Homo sapiens: one gene and its partner. The protein of the gene in region 1 purifies or fractionates together with the protein of each later gene. This does not show direct contact. Each region holds a gene or a part of one and is shown on either strand. Other genes may lie near its edges.

The links.
Region 2: the proteins of ZNF224 (region 1) and FBN2 purify together in Homo sapiens (affinity purification with mass spectrometry; one large-scale study listed by BioGRID and IntAct). This does not show direct contact.

Annotation. Positions count from the first base shown.
Region 1 is NC_000019.10:44,092,719-44,097,174, forward strand, and holds the start of ZNF224 (zinc finger protein 224), read left to right. Parts: upstream 1-1,642; 5' UTR 1,643-1,812; intron 1,813-3,624; 5' UTR 3,625-3,713; intron 3,714-4,456.
Region 2 is NC_000005.10:128,259,551-128,262,293, reverse strand, and holds part of FBN2 (fibrillin-2 precursor), read left to right. Parts: intron 1-386; coding exon 387-558; intron 559-2,464; coding exon 2,465-2,743.

The DNA of each region.
Region 1 (4,456 bases):
ATGAATGGATAAACAAATTGTGGCGCAAGCCTGTAATCCCAGCACTTTGGGAGGCTGAGGTGGGCGGATCACCTGAGGTAAGGAGTTCGAGACCAGCCTGACTAACCTGGTGAAACCCTGTCTCTACTAAATACAAAAAAATTAGCTGGGTGTGGTGGCGCATGGCTGTAATGCCAGCTACTTGGGAGGCTGAGGCAGAAGAATCGTTTTAACCCAGGAGGCGGGGGTTGCAGTGAGCTGAGATCGTGCCATTGCACTCCAGCCTGGGCATCAAGAGGGAAACCCCACCTCAAAACAAAACAAGACAAAGCAAACAAAAAAAACAAATCGTAGTAGAAACATAAAATATTATGAAGTACTGGTACATGCTGTGATGTGGATGAACTTTAAAAGCAGTATGCTGGCAGGGCGCGGTGGCTCACGCCTGTAATCCCAGCACTTTGGGAGGCCGAGGCGGGAGGATCACGAGGTCAAGAGATCGAGACCATCCTGGCTAACACGGTGAAACCCCGTCTCTACTAAAAATACAGAAAAATTAGCCAGGCGTGGTGGCACGCGCCTGTAGTCCCAGCTACTCGGGAGGCTGAGACAGGAGAATCGCTTGAACCCGGGAGGCGGAGGTTGCAGTGAGCTAAGATCGTGCCACTGCACTCCAGCCTGGCACTTTTTTTGAGATTCCGTCTCAAAAAAAAAAAAAAGAAGCAGGATGCTAAGTGAAAGGTGTCAGAAACAAAAGGTTCCATAATGTATAATTCCATTTATATGAAATGTCCACAATAGGTAATTCAATAGGACAGAGATTAGTGTTAGACAGTGACTGCTTAGTGGGTATGGGGTTTTTGGGGTGATGAAAATGTTTCCTAACTTTTTATTTGTACTACATATATCCTAAAATGGTGAATTTCACGTTTTGTGCATTACACCTCAATAGAGATGTTTTAAATAATAAAATACATTAAAATGTTTTGCATAGATAAAACAATAAAAAAAAACGTTTTTGTTGAGAAAATATTTGCGAGATAAAATGTTAATATCATGAATATAAGAACAGTGCTTGAAAAGTGAGGGATAAAACCAAAAACTCAATAAGAAAGTGGGCAAAACATCTGGACAATTTACAAAAAATGTAATAATGACACCTGAAAATATGCAAGAATATGCCATCTTTACAAGAGTTATAAATTAAAACTACATGCCATTTCTTACCACTGGCAAAACTTATTTGAAGAGTGTATCATCTCGCTTGTTCCCTTTCCAGTAACACTCCTGTCCTCACTAGAGGGGTTTAGACTTCAGGAATTCCTTTCTATACGGTATTTTCTCTTAGGCACCCAGGGAGAGGGAAGGACGACTCTCAGGGTAGAAGTCCACATTTCCCAACAGGCGCTCGGGGGTACGAGATTCGTTCCCCGTGGGAAGAGTGGTCAAGGGCTTCCCAGTAGTCGTCAACACTTCCCTTTGAGTGTAATGCTGCAGGAGTACAGTCCAGACCCTCAGTGGAATCGCGGTCGGTTTAGCTCCGGCAGTTGGGTCCCAGGGAATTCTGGGAAGTGTAGTCCAGACGCTCAGTGGAGTCGCGGTCAGTTTGGCTCCGGCTGGCGGGTCCCGGGGAATTCTGGGAAGTGGAGTCCAAACATTCGGTGGAGTCGCGGACACTTCCGCTCGGGGACTGAGGTTGCTGCAGTTTTTCCGCGATAGTTTGGGGCAGTTCCGCGCGTTGCAGGCCCTTCTGAATTTCCTGGACCTACGCATTGGATCCTCAAAGAACTGGTGATCGAATTAGGGGAAAAGGGGCCTCGTCGGAGAGTAGAGGTTTGGAGGGGCAAGGGCCGCTGTTTGCGTTCTCGTCCGTGGCACCTTCTTGGGCTTGGGTCTGTCCTCGCTTCCCGGGGGCATTGGTACTTGGTTGGGTCGCGTCTCACCTGGTTTCAGGGTTTCCGGGGCTCTGAGCTCGCCCACTCCGCCCCCTGCACCCCACGCGCGTGGCCACTTCTTCTCGATATAACGTTGGGGTGTTAATCTCCTTGGGTTTCCCGTTACTGTTCTTTAAAATGGGGACTTTAGGGCCATCCTAATGGAATCGTTTTGGGAACTGGAAGAGGTAACACAAATGAGAGCCTTAAAGCAGTCCCTGTCACTTGGTGACTGGTGGTCTCTTGTTAATTTCCCACGAAGGACCGGGTGGGGTCAGAGCTCCAGCTGCAGGGGCCTCGGCCCTTCTCCCTGATCCCTGCAGGACGCTGGATGATCCCGGAAGCCTTCTGACCTCTTTTTAGGAGAGCGAGGGTTGCGTCCACTTTCATGAAGGGAAAGGAGCATTTAACTTTTATGGGGGACGGCGACGCGGTCAAGGTGTTTCACAGCTTTCTCGTTCCCCAACCCGACCTTTCCAGAAGAGCTGCAGGGAGGGACTTCTTGGCTTCTGAGGGCAAAGCTCTACGTGAGTGGTCCTTGGCTCTTTGACCGAGATGCTCACCCCAACCGAGAGTGTATAGGTTGTGTCCTCGGGCATGGGGGTCGATAATAATTAAGTCTTAATTAGTAACTTCATTCTAAGGGCTTTATACAAATAAATTTACGCCACACCGTGGCTCTGTGGAGAAGTATTGCTTTTTTCTATTTTAAAAACGAAAGTGAGACACAGAGCGCATAGGCACCCGACTAGTGAGAGGTGGAGCTGGGGTTGGAACCTAAGCAGTCTGGGTCAGAGCCTGATTTGATCTTCTCTTGGGATACGTTGTCACTGAGGCAGAGGAACTAGTTGGACTTAGGTGGGGAAAGCAAGACTTAGGGGCTTGAAATTTTCTGAGTTTCTAAAAATGTTGTCAACTATTTTGTTTCAATCATTACAAATATTTTGTATTCTTATAGAACCATGTCATTGTACAGCATTCTATTTTTCTTTATTAAGAACAAAATGGGCCTGGCGCGGTGGCTTACGCCTGTAATCCCAGCACTTTGGGAGGTCCAGGCGGGCGGATCACGAGGTCAGGAGTTCGAGACCAGCCTGGCCAACATGGTGAAACCGCATCTCTACTAAAAAATAATTACAAAAATTAGCTGGGCGTGGTGGTGGGCGCCTGTAATCCCATCTACTCGGGAGGGTGAGGCAGGAGAATCGTTTGAATCTGGGAGGCGGAGGTTGCAGTGAGCGGAGATCTGCCATTGCACTCCAGTCTGGGCGACAGTGCGAGACTCCGTCTCAAAAAAAAAAAAAAAAGAACAAAATGTTTTTATTACCTACGAATCCATGAAGTAAAGGTAGCAACTGTTAAGCTCGTAATGTGTTTCTTTCTTTTTGTATATTTATAGGTTTATTTATGAACATTTACAAATTTTTATAATTTTTTTCTTAATATTTCCCCCTTATGTGTTTAACTATGGAAATTTCCAAATGCTGACAGACTAAACTAGTGAATTATCATGTTATATCATACTCATTAATCTCATTATTGTTATTATTTTTCCTATGACTGTTTCCTAAAATTATAAAACTTTTTATTTTCATGTCATTTGAAACCTATAGAAAAGTTGCAAAAGTAGCCTAAGAAATTCTTATTTACTCTTTACCCACGTTTGCCAAGTGTTTACATTTTTCCTGTTTGTTTTGTTGATGACCATCAGCTGAATACCACTAGAAACATACCTGTAACCAGAGACAGCTGATTATAGCTTTCTGCAGCAAGGAAGCCCACGTACCAGGGGCTGTCTTGGTAAGTAGAATTTAGGAAGACCTAGTATATGGTTTCACATAACATATTAGATAATTTCAGATTGTATACCAGATAATGTTATTTATTAAATATTAGATATCTATCCAAAGACTGCTAATAGTAGTTTATTGTATTATCTATTATACAGTGCTAGATAACATATTACCTAACTTCATGTTATGTACTCTGCAGTTCTATATTTAAATTTGTTCTATTTTTCACTTAAGGTTCTTACAAGTGTCCCCTACCCATCTGCCACCACCACCTGTGTTCACAGTCTAATTTTATGCATTGCCTTTAATTGTCACATTTCCATAATCTTTAATCTTGAGGATTCTACACCCTTTGTCTTTCTATGCTTGATATTTTTGAAGAGTATAGGCAAGTTATTTTGGAGAAAGGCATTCATTTGGAGTTGTGTCTGATGTAATTCATGTGCGGGTTCACATTATGCATTGTTGGTAGGGATACCACAGAAGTGGTGAATTGCGGGTTCAGATTATGCATTGTTGGTAGGGATACCACAGAAGTGCTGAAATGTCCTTTTCATTGCAACATAACAGGGTCCAAGTGATGTCAGTTTGTCTCTTCATTGGTGATCTCAACCTTGTCCACTTGGCCGAGACGCTGTCTTTCAGATTTCTCCACTATAAAGTTACTTAAAAAAAATTGAAAAGAATAAAGTTTCTTAGGAATAGATAACATTATTAGTGGGCATTCAGCTGTAAAATGACCTTCTCCAT
Region 2 (2,743 bases), on another chromosome or scaffold:
TGAAGGCAGAAGTTGGAGACCAGCTAGGGCAACATAGCAAGACCCTATCTCTACAAAACATGAAAATTAAAAAAAATTAGTTGGATGTGGTGGTGTGTGCCGGTTGTCCCTGCTAATTTGGAGGCTGAGGCATGAGGAGCTCTTGAGCCCAGAAGTTTGAGGCTGCAGTGAGCAAGATCGTGCCACTGTACTCCAGCTTGGGAAACAGAGCAAGACCCTGTCTCTAAAAGAAAAATAAAAGAGTTGCAAAGAATATTAGGGTTTTATGTTTATGAGTTTAGTGTTTGCTCTGTTGGTTTCGTGTTTCTGAAGAGTCTGCTCTACCACTGGAAAACTATGGTCAAGTCAGTGATAAAGTCTAACAATACTTTGCTTTTTGCAAATAGCCACTGTGTCTCAGGAATGGGATTTAACAAGGGGCAGTACCTGTCACTGGATACAGAGGTCGATGAGGAAAATGCTCTGTCCCCAGAAGCATGCTACGAGTGCAAAATCAACGGCTATTCTAAGAAAGACAGCAGGCAGAAGAGAAGTATTCATGAACCTGATCCCACTGCTGTGAGTATATCCCACTCTGTGTTGCCACAAAATTTTATCCCTACGGAGTCATGTATACAGTGCAGTTCACGTCGTTTTCAGCCTCACTGAAGTTAATCATACCTTGAATTTAATGGATAAATTAATGGACCCAGTATGGAAAAGACAAGTAAATTAAAGTGATTGAATTATTAGATCAAAACACAAAGCTTGGGAGAAAAGACTTTAAGATTCACAGTTTCAGAGCATTTTCTCTTGTTGTAGTTTTTGATTTATGTGGGAGGGTATGTCCATCTCGGGAAGAGCTATTTTTACATGATTCAAAAAATGAAATTATTTTTAATTTGTTCAGTTCTGTTTTATAAATGTATAGCATACAAGGCTGATTTTAATTTTCACTAGGGAAACCAAGTAGGTCTCATATTCTTTGTTTTATTTTTAAGACAGTTGTTCCTTCATTAAGAAGTTTTGTCTTCCAAATCACTTGTATTCTTTAAGGAACTGAAGTTGGAAATTGCGAGCCACTGATATTTCCTTTCCCTAATTGCATTTTGGCAGTGTTTAAAGGGGTGGGCTGCAGACTACCTGGTTTTGAACGTAACTCCCTGGCCCTCCCTATCTGTTACCTCTGTTACATAGTTTGTGTTTATTTAACTTCTCTCAACCTCAGTTTTTTCACCTGTAAGATGGGAATAATAATACCTCTGAAGGCTGATGGAAGGGTTAATTGAATTGAAACATGTGAACTGCCTGGAACAATGCCTGACATATATATCACATGTGTTCAGTTCCTATGAATGATTAATATCTCATATCTAGAGATCTTGATGATTTTCCCAAAGATCTGAGACAGTATGAGGTCGTCACTCACCACTCTCTGCAGTTAATATGACTGAGAAATTACCCCACCAAAAAACCTAATCAACAACTGGCTGGCTGTGTGAATTGGACAACTTGCTTCAGTTTTTTGGGCCTCAGAATCTTTGTCTATATGACCTGACTTGTCTAGCCAAAAAGTTCATGATGCTATTTTATAATAATAAATAAGCCAGTGTTACATTTACCTTAAGTAGACTAAGATACCCAACTGATGTTTGACAGTTGAGATATTCATCAAGTTCCCAAACTACAAATCCAGAAGTTCTGCTTATAAACTTTCCCATTGGGGTACTAGGACATAATTCTGCCTGAACACTGATGGGCACTTCTGGGTCACCACTGCCAAGTCCTCACTTAACAGATGCCCAATCAAAGCATTGTGGTTTTTATCCTATCTTACTTTGATATATTTGTGCTCCTCCCAACCCTCTGAGCAAAAGTCAGACTTGGTTTATCTGGGCCCTGCCCCACTGGCTTTTACCAAAGATGCTGGTTTGAACTGGAGCCCTGAGAACTCTGCAGATCACTCACTCTGTGTACCTCTGATAGCTCCCAGTAAACTCACTCATCATTCACTTACCTTACAAATCAAAGCCCAGCTTTCAGACAGAAGATTCCCCTGGGCGCATTCCCTGCTGATGCCCAACAGCAGTACTTCTTATTTTGACTCCAGAAAAAAAAAAATCATTACCTAAATTTTAGTTTTTAAAAATTATTAATTAGCACAATATTTCATAAACTCATCAAAAAAAACTTGAAATGGGAACACTCTGTAAGCCCAGTCCTGTACCTTTAATTACCTTGTTAAGGCTGAGTGAGAAGTCCTAAAGATTTACAGGGTATTCTCGATGGAATTGGCCTTTTCTTCCAACTGACAAAAATGTACAATAGCCTCTTTCACAGCCACTGCTGGTAAGGAGAGTGCAGAAAGCGGGAGTGGGAAGCCACAGCCTGTCCTCGTGACCAAAGCCCCTGCAGCTGATCTCTTTCTAGTCCTCTGCTTGTGCTGTAGAAGCTTGTCCCAAATCATTTCCTGTTCTTCCTCCAGGTTGAACAGATCAGCCTAGAGAGTGTCGACATGGACAGCCCCGTCAACATGAAGTTCAACCTCTCCCACCTCGGCTCTAAGGAGCACATCCTGGAACTAAGGCCCGCCATCCAGCCCCTCAACAACCACATCCGTTATGTCATCTCTCAAGGGAACGATGACAGCGTCTTCCGCATCCACCAAAGGAATGGGCTCAGCTACTTGCACACGGCCAAGAAGAAGCTCATGCCCGGCACATACACACTGGAAATCACTAGCATCCCTCTCTACAAGAAGAAG